Linked DNA regions of Homo sapiens: all the other regions are linked to region 3. Evidence: fine-mapped expression QTL. A gene starts in region 3. Each other region holds a variant in brackets. All regions are shown on one strand. Distances are between the middles of the regions.

Region 1 (5,836 bases), 350 kb after region 3:
GGCTTTGCACTTCCCTCGGCTAAGAAAAAAAAAAAAGCTTGAAGCAGCTCAGGAAAGAGCCCAAATTTCACACGTGTGGAACTGGTCTGAAGCACTGGAGTGAGTCCCAACCCTAAAGAGTACTGTAAAGTTAAAGGGATCATGTTACCTGAGGTCTCTGGAAAAGCCCCGAAAAGAGAACATTGCAGTTCATAACACAGGCCAATAGCAGGTCACGCTAACTGAGGGCCTATTACATCCCAGACAATTCACTGACAATTCTCTTGCTTTATTTTAATTAATCTTCAAAACAACCTGAGGTAAGCATTATTCTTTCCTACAGTTTACAGTTGAAAAAAATTGAGTCTTACAGAAATCAAGCAGCTTGCTCCAGTAAATGAGAGTCAGAATCTGAACCTTGGGCTCGTGCTTTTAGGAGCCACGTTCTCGTGACCACACAGACATCCTCCCCTTCTTAAGAAAGCACCAGATGTCCTTGGAAATTTATGCCTTTAAACGTTGGCTCTGGAAAGTAGTGAGGGACTGACAAGTGGCCCCACATGAGACCCAAGCCTTTGAACCATATGAATTTACTCTAATACTCCCTATAAACAGATGTCAGCATAAAGAATTTAAGAGGAAAACCAGTCCCTCCATTGTTAAAAGTTTACCCTAAAGTATACCAAGTGATGACAGTTTCTCAGGCAGCACCATCCCTTAGTAAAGCTCTAACTTTGTGCCATATTAAAGATATGTTAGCTTTACTGGGGTTACGAATTTGATTATTTTTAAATGGTTGGCAATTTAGCAGGTCATATTTGCCAACCCCTTAAGGCTTTTCTTGAAACTATAAGAAAAGGTACTCCTCACTTCTGCAAGTGTGACTATTTCTCTATTGTATACCCATCCAAAACAGGGTTGCAGCTCCATGTTCTCATTTCTATGTTTATATATTAGAATCAGCAAGGATATTTACTATTGTTATGAGCATGCATGACAAAATTTTTCATTATAATTATGTATAACTTTTAACATTTATATAGGTATATAATTTGTATGTTGTAGTTCATAATTACAGAAATAATATAATTATTATAATTAATAAATTTAATAACAGGAAGTAATTAGTATTTTATAGAACCGTAAATTCCCATATGTGTTTTTTTCTTTTACACATTTTTTGCTTCCTAATTTGTATACTGATTATTTATGTATCTCCTCAACTATATTATAAGAACAATTAGGTAAGGACTGTAACCTAATTGTAGTCCTAGTTTTTGTGCCACAGTGGTATTTATCCTAGTTACGCTGAGAGGTTAGTAGTCTTTAAATTTTATACCTGAAGTACAGTACGTTTAAAATAGTTTTGAGATACATATCTGAGTTTCTCTATCATAGCAATACCTTCTATTTTTTGTTTTTCTTCCAGAGCCTTGTAAATTGCTTCAGAGAAGGATTTTTAAAACTAGACATTGTACACCTCTTCCATAATTTTTGCCAAATATGTCACTTACACTATTATCTAATCGAGTAATATTTTCTTTAAATAAACTCACGGCCTTACCTAGAATGCTGTCTATGATGGAATTGTGGAACACTTGCAAGTGGATATCTTGCCTTAAATAAGTATTGGTAAAAATTAATACACTGAAAACAAAATTCTAGCTTTATATTCTTACCTGCCCTTAACTGAACTGAGGGGAGAGAGAGAGAGAGTAGAAATTATTAGAGAAACATGACATACACACTGGTATTAATATGAGACTTTATCCTTCACATAATTAGATTAATTGGAAGAAAGCTTTAAAGGGTGTAACTTTTGAAATTATCTAATGTGCGCTACTTAATATCATTTTGCTTACTATCTATAATATTGCTTACAGCCATGGCCCACTTTGGGAAGCATGCATTATCCCATGACCTCCAAACAGAACACACATCAGACCTGAGTTTATATCATGTCTTCTTAACTGTTTGATCTTTGGCAAGATACTTAATTCCTTTAAGCCTTGATTCTTAATCATAAAAGACGGATAATAATATTTACATTTGAAGATCACTTTGAGAATTTATGAGGTAATAATCACACCGCGTCTAGTCCTGTGCCTAGAATTTATTAAAAAACATGAAGACCTACTAAATGCCAGTCACTCTCCTTGGTACTCATGGTACAGAGGAGCACTTGACTGAGAAGCGTTCTGCTTTTAGCTTCTTTTGAGGAAAAATCAACTACGAACATCTCAATAAACAAGCAAAGTCATTTCAGGTGTGATAAAAGGCTCTGAAGTAAATAAAACCAGTCGATATGAAAGAAAGTGACTGCTATTCAAGAAATACTCATTTCCATCCTGACTCTCACCCCTATATGATTGGTATTTAGTACACAGGAAAAAAAAGACTGCATTAAGAATATGCTTGCTTATTTATGTCAGGCAGGTGCAAACAGTGAGTGCAAGTAACAATGGCAGCTAAAAACATATATAAATACATGGCCCTAATATTAAGCTTCTGGATTAAGAAATTTAAGATCTTCCTTCTGAAGTTATTTTCTGTAGAATGTCTGATCTTCTCTTAGAAAACATTTAATTGTTCATGTCATGCAAATTAAATACAGTTAGAGGTTTATCACCTACTTTTGTCATGGTTTTGTGTGTGTGTGTGTGTGTGTGTGTGTGTGTGTTTAATCTCTAGAAGCTGTTTTATTGTGTTTGATGGGTTTGACTTAGAGTTGAGAAAATTTTTTCACATAATTCGAGCTGCTAACATTCTTTTGGAAAAAAAACTAATAATTAAAAAATTGCCCATATTTTTATTTGTACACAGATTAATTTCACTAGGTAATTTCTCAGAACAAATATTTTTTGACAAAACTTCTAAAAACCTGCAATATAAGAAATAGTAAGCCACTCATTTTAAACTGAACTAAACTGAACCTTCTACAGGCTGTATAGAAGTAGGAACTTATCACTGAATTCA[A/G]CTATCAGAAAAGAGTCCCTTAATGGTCAGGGCTCAGAGGTCAGGGTGTAGGTGATGACAGAATGGATAACTGAGATGGAATAATTTGCTTTTGTACCTGAGACAAAGGATGGATTTATTTACATAAAGAGAAACAAGTTCTGGGATGCCAAAGACCTATTATTTGACCTGTGGAAGATAAATTAATTAATTTGGGGCATTACACACTAATTTTGGAGGGCCAGGAAAATGGTTCTTCTCTTTCAATTTCTTCATTACTTAGCCACTGTAGTCATTTGCAGTGATTTTGAGTTTTGTTTCTTTGTTAGCATTCTTCTGATGTCTAAATGGCATAATTATTGGAATTAAGATTTTGAAGAATCAATTGGAAGAGTCTGTAGTTGGATACTCAATTAACAACTATTGCCAAGGCAGCTACTCAGCTCTCACTGTCTTTCATCTCAGCCATAATTGAATCCTGCTTTTCTCAAATAACAATGAATCTTTTGATCTCTGTACAGCAGGAAAGATCAAACTGATCCTCAGAATCCACAAATGCATGTCTTTCACCCCCGAAACCTTCTTCAAAGATGCAGTTAAATTTGAGTTGCAGTTATGTTTTCAGTATAATTACCAGGCACAAAAGAAAATTACTTCCTTTATTATCATAACGAAAAAACACATTTCTTTCTTCTTCCAGTTTTTTTTAATGTTACATTTTAAATCGTTTCATGTAAATTTTACTTTTTCTCTGGCAACTTACAATAAAGCCTTTCAAAGTGATTTCATATGGTTTTTTTTTTTTTTTTCCTGTCAGAGCTTTTACCTCTAAAACAAGTAGTTCAGTGCCACTGGCCAATAATTTACTTTAGAAACATAATGTTTTCTGTTCTCCTGAACAGCAATTATGAATGCTTAACAGACCAGATGATGTAGTTCTTGTTCTGACCCCAATATTTACTATTTGTTCTTTAGCAAGTGAAATTTGAGTTCTGAACTCCCAGTTTCATATCTGTAAAACAACAATATTTTGCCCATAATGTTATTTGAAAGGAGAATCAAATGTAAATGCACATGTGCTGCTTTTTAAACATTGCAATAAACTCTACAATGTAAGTTTTATTACAATAAAACTTTTTACTATCATGGCTTTAAAAGAACTCAAGCAGCATGCAAGGGTTCATAAAGAGTTGCAATGGTTAACTTCATTTTTTTATTGCTCACTTTGTGCAGCCACTTACATTTGTATGGGCAGTTGGCATTTTGAGAGCTTGAATTTAGTGCTGAAAGCCTCAGTTCTGCTCTAAACAAACCTGTGAAGAGGACCACTGAGATTCCAGAGGTAGGAATTTGGACAGGTCCAGATCTACCCTTACTCATACTCTATCAGGCTTGATGTATGTATCTGACCAATGGACTCCTCAAGAACTTCATGAAAATTTACTAATAGCAATAATGACACAAGGGATACTCCATCGACAATAACATCAATTTAATGACAAATCTGTGTTAATATTATCCTCTTCTGTCGCTCATTACCTCATTCACCAAACCTTTGACAAACAAAGCTACTCTAGAATTTACTCTATGATTTGGTCCAAATGGCTCTCATCTGGAGAGTTCTCCAAAATACAAATCAGGGATTTCAGTTCTGCAGAAAATTGGAGACCCCTTAAACAAATGTCTGAGATCATGTTGCATTTTATTTCACAGAGTAAGCTGAAACTGAGCAGAGCTGATTGAGAAGGTGATGTCAGAAAAAGGAGCCTAACAAACAATAAGACACTGTGATGGTAAATTTAATGTGACAACTTGGCAGGCCACAGTGCCCAGTTGTTTTAGCAAACACTAATCTAGATGTTGCCATGAAGATAATTTTTAGGTGAAATTAACATTTAAATTAGTAGATATTAAGTAAAGCATATTAACCTCCATAATGTGGATGGGCCTCATCCAATCAGGTGAAGGCCTGAAGAGCAAATACATGTTTTCCAAAGAAGAAGAAATTTGGCCTGAAGACTGGAACATAAAACCTTATCTGAGTTTCTTACCTGTCCATGAAATTTGGACTCCATACTGCATGATCAACTGTTACTTGAATTTCTAACCTGCTAGCTTGCCTTACAAATTTTGTACTTCTCAGCCCCTACAATTTAGTGAGCCTATTCCTTACAATAAACCTTTCTTTCTTTCTCTCTCTCTCCATACATACATATATACACACACACACACACACACACACACACACACACAATTCTGAGAATGCATGGATTATAGGTGTGTATAATGGATATATGTATAATGGATATATATAATGGATATGTACACATGTATCTCCATCTATGTGTATGTACATATGTAAACACATATACACATACGCAGACATGTGCACACATTCTCCCACTATATATATATGTATGTATAGTGTGTATACATATATGTGTGTACATGTATATTCTATTGATTCTGTTTCTCTGGAGAAACTCTAACACAGGTCTGCTGTGATTGTTATAAGAAAAGACGTTTTGTTCACTTATTTTTATAATCCAACAAAATGAAGTGTAGAAGTGTACAACAGTTTAAATTGTAAATTCACTCACTGAATAGTCCTTTCAAACTCATCTACTTCCAGTTTTCCAACATTTATTTTTTCCATTTCAACTAAATGTCTAACTTGAAATCTTATAGCAGCAGAATTCTGTGTTCAAGAAGCCAAGTTTCTAAATAAAAGTTTTCTTTCCTGCCAAATTCTAATGTTATCTCAAAGATAATACCTTGTGATCTTAAATTATAGCCATTTACAAATATCATTAAAACTCATTTGTGTACTTTGGAAAGAAACCTAAAACTTGCTAACTATAAAGACATAATAGAGCTGTAATTCACATTCATTCTGGGAGGC
Region 2 (5,836 bases), 40 kb after region 3:
CGAGGGATTCAATCTCTTTGAACTTCAGTTGACTTCCCTATAAAAATGGGAATAAAAATAACTACATTACAAAACCTTTGCAAGGATTTATATTAAATAGATATATAAATGTCTCTAACACAATACTTAGCACATCTAGATGTTCAAAAGATGAACTCTCCTCTCTTCTCTTTTCCATCCTTTTCCTTTTTAGGCAAAATATGTCATTGCAACCATTTGCTGTCTAGATATTTGACATAGCAATCTGGCTTTGAAGATAATGGGCTGTGGAATATTTATTTCATGGATGCATGTTGGATCCATATATCTTTTCCTACCATTGTTTTGTCTTTTGAATTTTCCAGAAGAAACTTATATTTCAAATGGGATAAGAACATAATAAAGATGTTTGTAAAATTCCTTTAATAGGAATGAAAACACTTGACTTACTATCTCAAAGGAATACAGAGAAATAGATGAGGATTTATTTTGTATTTTTAATTTCTATATGTAAAGTGTTACAAATTTGGACAAACCTCTGTTGAAGACCTAGACACAATTATAGTATTTTTAAGGAAATGCACATATGGCTACTTTTGATTATAACCAGTTGAACCTGGCTTTTTAAAAATGTGTTACCTAAAAAAGTTGTAAATGAAATAGCTGTGGGGGACTTCAGCAGTGATCAGTCTCATTTTATATCTGAAAAATTTAGGGAAGTGAAGCAACTTGCCTGATGTGGCCATTGAAAGTTAGGAGTCAGTGAATCACCCCTTCTCTAAGTTCTGTGCAGTAGAAAGTAGTCACAAATGCTGAAGAAATGACCACTGTGTTAATGGCAGATAATGTCAGATTAAAAAAAGCAGATGAGCTGGAGGTTAAAGTGGCAGCGTGCTGTAACCAAGCCTCCAAATCAAGCCCTTGGAGCCGCTATAAGCAGAGCTAGCTGTGCAAAGCTGACTCCACATATGATTGCCCTGCCAGCCTTGTGAAGGAGACGAGGCCTGCCTGGCCAAATCAGACACCACAGAGTGCAGTTCAAGGAGAAAGATGAGCCCTTGTGGCTTCTGTCTGAAAGAATGCCTTGTCGATGGGCAGATGCTTTCAAAATGCCAGAAAATATTCATTTTAAGTACTATTTGCTCTGTAATTATATCTAGAGTATTAATTTGTTTAGCCTGCCTCTGTCAACCATTTGTATCTTATCAGGGAAATTGCTAACCTAGTATCTGCCTAAATTATCATGATTAATTTTTTTTTTGGTTATCACTTTTCTTATTGTTTTGTAGATTTCTCCCTTAACATCAAACAACTTAGTATAATACTTCACAAATGAAGGTTCTTTGAAAATTCTACAGAATGTTGTTGCTGTTGCTTATTCAAATTTATATGGAGTTAGTTCTCCCAAGTCTCCAGGAGCTAGTTCATAGTTCTGAATTATAAAACTGCAAAGCCCAAAGAGAAAGGAAGAAAAATGATAGATAAGGTTGAGGGCTTTTTACCACATGGTAGTCATGATAAAATTAGGAGAAAGAATGAGTTTCTGGACACAAATAGCAGCTTATTCCCTAAAGTTAAGAATCTAGTAATGAAATATAAGGAACTACCCCTTTCTTAAGTCACCTCATTAAGCAAATTAGTTTGATATTACAGCAGGAAGAAACAGGGGCAGGCTTTAAGGACATACATTTTTAATTTAGTTCTTTATATGCCCATTTTGCCACAAAGAATTTGATGCACGTAAACCATTATTGAGAAAAGGATAACTCTTTTTTTCCAGGAATTTGGCACCTAACACATTTGCATCTAGAAGTGTGGATAAGAATGAACTATTCAATAAAAGGCTCAGTGAATAAGTTACATATTTCAAATTTGTTAAACTCTGTGCATTTGGAAAACTCCAGGAACTAAAATAATTGGGAAGGTTGACAATGGAAGGCACATTGTCAATTGTCTCCATGTGGAATCAACAACCCTTAGGGGAAACACACGTTGGTTTATTACTTGCTAATACTTTGTTCAGCTTCTTTCTCTTTTACTGGGTCTTTTTCTTGCTCCTTTACTCCCTTGCTCTTTCCTCCAGATAAAGTCTGGTTTTTGAGTACAGAGTACATTAATTCAGTACCTTCAGTCTCTGCAATCATCTATCACAAATTAAAGTCATTAAAGATATTTTGCATAATGTTGACTGCAAAAAGTAGTTTTAAAAGGATATACTTGTCTGGGTAGGGTGGCTCACGCCTGTAATCCCAGCACTTTGTGAGGCCAATGCAGGTGGATCACCTGAAGTCAGGAGTTCAAGACCAGCCTGGCCAACATGGTGAAACCCCATCTTTACTAAAAATACAAAAATTAAACCAGGCATGGTGGCATGCCTGTATTCCCAACTACTCGAGACGCTGAGGCAGGAGAATCCCTGGAACCTGGGAGGCGGAAGTTGCAGTTAGCTGAGATCACACCACTGTACTCCAGCCTCAGTGACAAGAGTGAAACCCCATCTCAAAGAAAAAAAAACAAAAAACAAAAAAAAAAACAAAAAGGACATTCTTTTTTCATGTAGTAAAAACAGAAAATGCAGCAGTACTTTAGCTGGATGGGTAGCTGTCTTATAATGTATTTATTTCCATTTCTACTAATGGAACGATGTAAATGAGGTATGGCTTGATCTGTCTGCATTCACCTCTGAGCTATTTCTATGTTCTCTTGATTATAGATGATAACTTCCTACTCTGGCAAATGGTGTGTCTTTTTCTACTCAGCAGAGTGCCAACGCGGGGCCTGTACACGGCTTGTTTCTTTGGGTCATGATTTATTATTCTCTTGGCCATTTTATTACTATGACACTGCCTTTATGTTAATCATTTTATATTCCAAAGATTTTGAAGAGCATGCTCAGAATATGGACTATTCCTTTAAAGTCATTGCTGCTCTTTAGTTTATGAACAGAAATCAATTTTTTTATTTATCTCAGTGGTTCTTAACCCAGGGTGCAAGAACAGAATCACCTGGGAGGCTTTTAAAAAATTTAGACAATAATGTCTGAGTTGGGCCTGGGCTCAGAAGTGTTTTTAACCACCTTCCACCTTTCCCCAAGATGATACCACTGAGCCTTCAGAGTTGAGAATCAGAGAGCTGTGTACACAGCTGTCTTCTGCTGTTTGGAGAAGTAAGGCTGCAGAATAGCATAAGAGACCCCATAGCCAGCCTGTTTGGCTTCAAACCCTGGCTGCCACTTTGTACCAGTGTGACTCTAGGCAAGGTAGTTAACCACTCTGATCCTCAATTCCTTGTCTGTAAAATGAGAATGGTGATAGTAATAGAACGGAACAGAGAATTGCTAAAAGGATTACCTGAACTGATGCATATACAGCAGCTAGAATAGTGTCTGGCACATGGCATGTAGTTTATAGGCTATTAATAAATACTTAATTCTCACTTCCAGCATTTTTTAATTTAAAAATGTCTCCCATATGTTAAGAAGAGCCTTATTATTTGTGATTTATGCATTTTAAGTGGTTAACAAGTTGGTGCTCCTAAGCAGTGAACTAGGATTTTCTATTGTTCCCTTGTTTCCTCATCCCCATAATCACCCAGCTCAAGACAACTCAATTAATGATGATATTATT[T/G]CAATAACATTTGATTATTTATACCCACACTTTATTCCAAAGTGACTTTGGGTACGTATCTTACAAATATATATGTAATATATAAAGTTAAAAGAGCTGAATAAAACAAGACCAGAGGAGAAACAAGGGTAGAAAGGCAGATTAGCTTTTAAAGTCTGGCTCTCAAGAAGGTACCCTATAATGTCCCGTACTCTTTTAGCCCAGGCCCACATTGCTGAAGCCTAAATTCATATCAAAGTGATATTTCGCATGATATGTGCAATAGTTTTCTCGCTAACAGGAGAAATAGAGAAAACACTTTTATTGTTGCTGTTTTTGTAAGTGGGAAAATTTAGGCTCCAGAAAATGAAGCACATTTTTCTTGTTGATTTTACAGTCAGTGACATTGAAATACCAATTCAAATGCTATTTGTTTTACCTGGAAATGATATAATTTATATCATAATATTAGATAAAATAGAAATTCTTTAAAAATACCTGTTAGACATTACTGCCTTACAAAAGACAACTGTTTATATTCATTGTCTAAAGAAATGAGCCAAAAATGTGTGCCAGATAATGCATTTATTTCCATTTCTATGATTCACTTTTATCAAAGTGTGCCACTGCATGTGGTTAGCCCTCAAGTCTATAAAAGGAGACTAATGAGGAGTTGAGAAGTTTGGCCTAACATTCACCCACAATCTCCTCTGGACATCCTTCCTCTGTCTTTATTACATACCCATGTATATAATTACATGGATATAAACCTACAGCTGGATATGCAGGACACCCATCCTGAATGGCTGCCTGGCAGATGGATAGGTTGGCCTATAATCCCTGAATAGCCAGAGAATATGGGGCCTTCTTAAGCATGAATCTGCTAAGACAAGAGAAAGACAAAGTAACTGTCAAGTCTAAATTTGTTAGAAAGCCATTTAGTACTCCAACACTGTTAGCTTCAGGCTTGATTGTGGAAACATTTCATTTTCTGTGTCAGAGGAGGCAGGTTTGTCATGTTGCACATTAATTAATGATGATGTTAAACTATCCTGGACTGTCTTGTTCCAAGACTAAAATTTTCCAAAGACCTTCAAATTTACAGTGCTCTTCAAGACTTCCCAGGGGTGTGTATAGCTGTGTGTGTGACGAATATATGTATATACACACTATTCTTCCCATTTAGCAAATACTTAACCCCATTGAACATGATATGCTGGCAGACAAAGTGAGAATATAAGGTGGTATCTCCGGGCTAATCTAATTTTGGTTTTGGTCTTAAGATTGATAGTATCTATATTTCTGACTGATAGTTTTTCAATTCTCATATTTTTACCAAAAGATGAAGGATGTTAGAGTATAGAATCTTCATCTGTGTTTTTTTATTCAGCACATAGATAATGATAGCTTTTAATTTCTTTCTTTAGCTTCAGGGTAACTGGTGGGTTGTACTTAAAAATAAAATTATCCTTCTTTATGTACCATTTACTGCCTTATGGGATTAGTCATTATCACCAGAAGCGCTGCCCATTCATTCATCGGTTGGTACATGGCCCTAGGCTAAGTGTTGTGCAGAATATAGAGAACAGTGGTAACCAAAAAAACTTACATGGTAGTGGGAAAAGCATGGATTTTGTTGTCTAGTCTAGGTTTGAATCTCTATTATTAATTTGCTGAGAAAATTCTCAGTTCTCTTCCTTTACATGTCTATCCTTTTGCCTGTTTACACTGTCTTGATTAATGTAGTTTTGTAGCAAGTTTTGAAATCAGGAAGAGTGAGTTTTCTAGTTTTGTTTTTTTTCAAGTTTGGCTTTCCTGTTTTGGATCTTTTGAATTTAAAGATTAGCTTGTCAATTTCTGCAAAAAAATGTCAGCAGGTATTTTGATAGTGATTGTAGTGAATCTTTAGATCAATTTGGGGAGCATTGCCATCTTAACCACATTCAGTCTTTCAATCCAGGAACATAAAATGTCTTTCTATTTAGGCCTTTATTGATTTAATGAAATTTTGTAGTTTTCAGTGTACTCATGTTGCACTTTTTTGTTAGGTTTATTCCTAAGTATTTTAGTCTTTATAATGCTGTTATCAATGGAATTGTTTCCTCACATTTATTTCTAGTTTGTTTATTGCTAGTCTATAGCATTACAACTGATCTTTGTATATTGGTATTGTGTTCTGCAGCTGTGCTGAACTCATTAGCTATAGTGTGTGTGTGTATGTGTGTGAATTTCTTCATGTTTTGTATATGCAA
Region 3 (5,784 bases):
AGAAGGGCTGGGTTATTAAATTGAAAAGATTAATCCCGGAGCCTTCCCCTCTGTCAAAAAACCCTGAAAGTGACTAAATTGACACCAACTCTGGATGTTCCTTAGGAAAAAAACAAAACAAAACAAAACAAAACAAGATTAAAAAGGGCCCAATTTAAGACCCTTATTAATACATCTGCAAGAGAGCAAAGAATAACAACAACAACAAAAGTTATACAGTCAATTTTCAATGATACATCGTCCCACTGGTGCCACCGGGGCGCCACCACCCAGCACCCGAGACCCGCCGCGCCCCCGGAAAAAGTGGGAAGGGACGTAGGGGGATGCTGAAGGAAGTACCTTGTTTTGTCTCCAAAGGGCAACATAGCAAACGTGGGAAGTTCGTTTTCGAACTCCGCCGATCCTGGACTCCAGGAGGCTCCGTAGGGGCAACAACGCGCGCAGGTGAGGTGAGGTGAGGTCGGCGACTCAGAACCAGCTCCCTCACGGCCCCGGCCTCCGCGCCGCCGCCCGTCGCCTCCCGCTCGCCCCGCGCTGCGCCGCCCCCTGGCGGGGAGCGACCGGCAGAGCCGCGGCCGCGCGCCGGCGAGTGGGACCCGGGCGTCGAACCCGGGCGGGCTCCTCGACCATCACTGCCGGGCGTGTGTCACCCTCCCGGCCAAGACGGCCAGCACCCGCTGCCCGACGGCCGCTGCCCAGAGCAGGCGGCAGCGGGGCACGGACTCTTTCTGCAAAGGGGCGCGTCCTGGAGTCCACGCACCCCGACTATGCATCAATTCCTCAGGCTTCGGGGCACCCGCCCGCCAAGCACTCTCTGCTCCACTCTTCTTGTCCCTCTGCTCCCAGTCTCAATTCCTCCCCAACTCTCCCGCGAGCGTTTCCCACGAGCGCCCCGACTGCCCGCTGCGCAGCCGCCTCCAAAAGGACAGGCTCCCTCCTCCCCGCCCTCCGCAAGGGCCGCCCCGGCGCTTGGCTCTGGACCAGAAAGAGCTGGCCTCTGGGGTCTGCGCTGCCCCTTGGGGTCCGCTCCAGGCGGCGCCTCCCCTGCGCCCTTTGTGTGCACGCCGCAAACCCCTCTGCAGAGCTCTACTTTTGGCGGCACAGCCTTCGGCGGAAAAGCGAGTGAAAGGAGGCGCGCGGGACAAGCAGGAGACTGGAAGGGGGGAAAAGGCAACCGCACTCACTTTGGCAAGGTTCCGTCATGTTGCCTTTGGGCTGTCCCGTGGACTCGTCCCTCACCCCAGCTTCCCCGCCCAGCCAGGGCCAGGGCGAGGGGGGACGGGGGAGGAGCGGAGCCATCAAGACCGACTTGGAAATGGTGCTTCCGGAGCTGCAGGGAAGGGGCTCAGAAACTGTTTGGGTTTTGCTGATTGGATTTTGGGGAACCAGAGGGCTAGAGAGGGGCTAGGGGAAGGCCCGTGAGCACGGATGTATGAAAATAATCATGTTCCCGGGGAATACCAAGAGGGTCGGGGGTGAGGGTGGGAGGTCGGCAAGTACATTTTTGTATTTGAACTTTGTGAGCAAGTTGTATCAAATCCGACACTTGAGTTTTTCGACTGTGCTCGCTTAGAGTTGAGGTTTCTACCTCGTAACAGGACCGAGGACCTACTTCAAAAGCAAAGGGCCTGGGAACAGGGGTGAACGAAGGGCACAATTCAACAGGGGAGAGAAATCAGCCCCGGGTCTTCCGTGGGTCCTCTTCTTACCTGGTGGCTTTTCTAACAAAGTATGAGAAGGTAAAGTCCCAGTGATCGTCCAGCCATGCTTCGACCGAGTCCTGATCCCTCTGCTGCTGCTTCTGCTGCTGGGGCTGCTGCTGCTGTCGCTGCTGCCCGAAGCTGGGGCCGGCCCGCTCCATGGTTGGCACCGCGCGCCTCGGAGGCTCTCTGGTACTGCTTTTCCACCCCAGCTGGGGTCCGTCCCTCAGAAGAACAGGACTCGGCCTCGAGACCCTCCCCCTTCGTCCTGCTCCAGTCGGGCCGGCTTTCGACAAAGCGGCCGGAGCGCCAGGCCAGCCTCCTGCCCCGCCCCGCCCCGCGCGGTTCTACGGGCGCCCAGGTGTGGTGGGCGGGGCCAGGCGCAGCTGCTGCGCCCCCCCCACCCGGGGTCCGGCAGTGTTCCGCTCTCGCAGGCTCTTCAGTCCCCTGGTTCCCAGGAGGCGGCGGCGGCGGCGGCAGCGGCAGCGCCCGGCGAGCTCTCCGGAAGCCAAGTGGCGGCGGCTGGAAGGAGGCCGCGCGGCCGCTGGGGTGCGCTGTGTGCCAAGCCGACTTCTGGGGAGCGCGCTAGGTGACTGGGTGTGTTCTCAGAGTGCCCCAGGGAGGGAAGGTCGCGATGTGGGAAGTTTTGCCCGAAAGTAAGAGATGATGAGACCCTGGGCCCTTTTCCTGGGGCCTGGGAGTGCAATGACCTTCCCGCCTAGCTTTTCCCTAGCCCTACGCTTGGGTCTGGGAGGAGCGGGACCGACCTCCTTCAGAGCCCAGCCCGCTCAGTGACTTAAAGCGGTCCAGCCACGGACCACTGCGGGTGGAGAGAGCTGGGGCGTGTGCTAGCAAGAGAGATTTGCAGGTGTAGGTGGGTAACTTGCAACAAAGCCATACCCGTGCTTAATGTTAATGATAACAGCAATAATTATAACTTAAGTGCCTTTAACCATTGCCTCAAACTTCCCTTATGCATAACTGGAAAAAGATTTACTTGGAAAAGAAAAAGCAAACAAATAATTTCCAATGCTTTGTGCATGAAGTTAGAAAACAAGGGCACCTCTGTACAATTAGGTTAATCCGAGAGCACTGGCGCAACCCAGGTGCAGTCGAGGGCAACCAGTTATCCCAATTTTAAATTAATGCATCATTTTAATTAAATTGGAATTAACACTCCCTCAAAAGTATCCATTAAAAATGGCTCAGCCTTTTTGTCCAATCCCTATCTTGCTTCTTTAAAAAAGGAATTGGTGTCATCCTTTGCTTTGTCTGCATCCCCATCTTCCTGTCATGCATTGGCAGTTTTAATATGGCATTTTGCAATGACCTATATTTTTTGGTAGAATTAAATCTGGAATTATGGGTTGCACAATGTGTGAATGACACCATTAGCAGTGATATAAAAAAAAATGAGTTAGCTGATATACTTCTGACAACTTCCTTCTAAATACTCTTGGCAAGAATTTAAGGCATTATTCACTACATAGAAACACATCATTAAATTGATAATCTGAGAACTTTTAAAAGTATCTTCTAGTCCCCCAATGCAATGGTTTATCTTTCCTTCATTGAGTAATTGACCTTTTGCGACTTCAGTTTTTCTGAAACTTTACTGCTGTATGCAGGTAGCCACAACCAAAGAAAAGCAATCAAAGCAGTAGAGTATGAACTAATGGGTGATAAATTATATTGGATTTAGAAATGAGAATTCTCTCCTAATGTGTTACTATGATAGTGATTATAGTGCTCATGGAATACAGTCATGCGTCACCGAACAACAGGATACATTCTGAGAAATGTATCCTTAGGCAATTTCATCCTTCTCTGAACATCACAGTGTACTAACACAAAATAGATGGCTCAGCCTACTACACACTTAGGCTATTGCTCCTAGACCACAAATCTATACAGCATATTACTGTACTGAATACTGTAGGCAATTGTAATGCAATGATATTTGTGTGTCTAAACATATCTAAACATAGAAAAGGTACAGTAAAAATATAGTATTATCTTATGGGACTCATATATGTGGTCTGTCGTTGACTGAAAAGTGGCACATTACTGTGGAAAGTTTCTCCTCAGTACAGTTTTTTCTTGTGGAAATCCATGCATTCCTCCTAACAGGAGATCAATCGTAATTTAAAACTCTGCTTATCTACTAAAGATGCAGTGAATTTGGGGCTTGAATTATTTGCTTTTGTTGGATACTTGATTAAATAAACACGTATAATCATTTCAATGTTTGTATTCCCTCCAAAATTCATGTTGAAACTTAATCCCTAATTCAACAGTATTAAGAGGAGGTGCCTTTAAGTGGTGATTAGACCATTAGGGCTCTGCCTTTGTGAATGCATTAGTGCCTTTTTAAAAAAAGGCCCAAAGGAGACAGTTGGCCCCTTCTATTCTTTCCACTATGTGAAGACACAGCACTGACCCTTGCTGAGGATGCAGCAACAAGGTGCCATTTTGTAAGCAAAGAGCAGCCCTCACCAGTTGCCAAATCTGCTGGCACTTTGATTTTGGAGTTTCCAGCCTCCAGAACTGAGAGAAATTAATTTCTATTGTTTATAAATATCCCAGTCTGTGATATTTTATTACAGCAACACAAATGGACTAAGACAGTGGGTAATATCAAAATGTTCATTTTTCTCTCCTAACCTGAAAGGGTTAAATTATCAGAAACCAGGAAGGTTTCTGAAAAATTGCTTCAAGAAAAACAATCTATAGGCTGGGCACAGTGGCTCATTCCTGTAATCTCAGAACTTTGGGAGGGAGAGGTAGAAGGATACTTGAGCTCAGGAGTTTGAACCAGCCTGGGCCACATGGCATGACCCCATCTCTACACAAAATTTTTAAAAATTAGCCAGGCATGGGGGAACACACCTGTAATCCTAGTTATTCGAGAGGCTGAGGCAAGAGGATTGAGCCCAGGAGGTCAAGGCTGCAGTGAGCCATGATCGTGCCATTGCACTTCAGCCTCAGTGACAGTGTAAGACCCCCGGCTCTATAACAAAAAAGAAAAAAAAAGAAAAACAGTACATAGATTCTCTCAATAGTGAATCTCAAGTCTGTGTGGTATATATGATAGTTTGGGAGTTACTGTGAAGGCCTATTACCTGAGAAACATATCACAAGGGATTGGGGAACAGAAGTGTCTCAAACAGTTCTAGTCTCTGGGAGATTCAGCCAAAATGTGTAACTATACCTCCTGTAAATTTAAAGTAGTTAAAGGTAAGCATATTTTGAACTGACATTACCTGGGCCTCTTGTTTTTCAACTCCATTTTATTCTTTATCCCAATTTGCCCAATTATTTTGTTTTAACTTGGCATGAATTGTTCTAAGCACCTCAAATCTTGTTATGGAATTAGTTGAAGAATAAGTAAATCATAAACACTCCCAGGATATAACTTGAAAAATGCTGTTAATGCTATTTATAACAAACAAATGAGCAATGATGTATGTATGTGTATATGTATGATATATATATGTGTGTATATGTATATATATATTTAATTTTTGTAAATGACCCAGTCTGTGGTATTTTGTTATTGCAACACAAGTGGACTAAGATATATATATATATATATATAAAATCAATGATATATATGTGTATATACATACATATATGTCATTGCTCATTTGTTGCTCATGAGCAACAGCTTAACTAAAGACCTTCAATGTATTCCCACTGTGCTAAAATAAAATTCAAACTCTGTAACGTGGCTTATGGGGTTCTACATTATTTGGTTGTTACCTACCTGTACTGCTAAAGATTTTGGTCATACAAATAGAAAAAACAAATGCAACAAAGCAAAAACACAAAAAAGAAATATAAGGCATAAAAATGAAAAAGTAAACATTCTCCATTTGCAGACATGAGTATCTATGAGGAATACCCAAAGGAATGCACAAAGCAACTACAAGAATTAAGAGGTGATTCAGCAAGCTTGCAGCATAAATGGTCAGTATACAAAAATCAATTGTATCTCTGTATACTAGTCTTATGGGCTGATTTGTTTCCCCAGATTCATATGTTGAAGCCCTAACCCCTAGTACCACAGAATGTGATTGTATTT

Which allele goes with the higher level. Alleles are on the strand shown, and positions count from the first base shown. SD is a standard deviation of normalised expression in the study named. Not every link is listed here.
For the expression in aorta of the gene that starts at base 1,994 in region 3, allele G in region 1 goes with a higher level than allele A (small effect, 0.20 SD a copy in GTEx).

Evidence for each region. PIP is the estimated chance that this variant, and not a neighbour inherited with it, causes the effect.
Region 1: its variant is the best candidate, but not a certain one, in a credible set for the expression of PDE5A in aorta (GTEx, PIP 0.79).
Region 2: its variant is the best candidate, but not a certain one, in a credible set for the expression of PDE5A in whole blood (INTERVAL, PIP 0.80).

The regions. Positions count from the first base shown.
Region 1 is chr4:119,977,226-119,983,061 of GRCh38, forward strand. No RefSeq gene overlaps it. Among named protein-coding and RNA genes, the nearest start is that of LINC02502, 41 kb to the left of the region's middle. The variant A/G (reference allele first, on the strand shown) is at 2,956.
Region 2 is chr4:119,667,159-119,672,994 of GRCh38, forward strand. No RefSeq gene overlaps it. Among named protein-coding and RNA genes, the nearest start is that of PDE5A, 41 kb to the left of the region's middle. The variant T/G (reference allele first, on the strand shown) is at 3,606.
Region 3 is chr4:119,626,811-119,632,594 of GRCh38, forward strand. It overlaps PDE5A (phosphodiesterase 5A), which reads right to left and starts at 1,994. Exons shown (of 21, transcript NM_001083.4): 1 at 1,710-1,994. The coding sequence starts at 1,861. It overlaps LOC107986192 (a long non-coding RNA gene), which reads left to right and starts at 980. Exons shown (of 1, transcript NR_165235.1): 1 at 980-3,945. RefSeq lists silencers at 428-707, 1,928-2,327 and an enhancer at 838-887.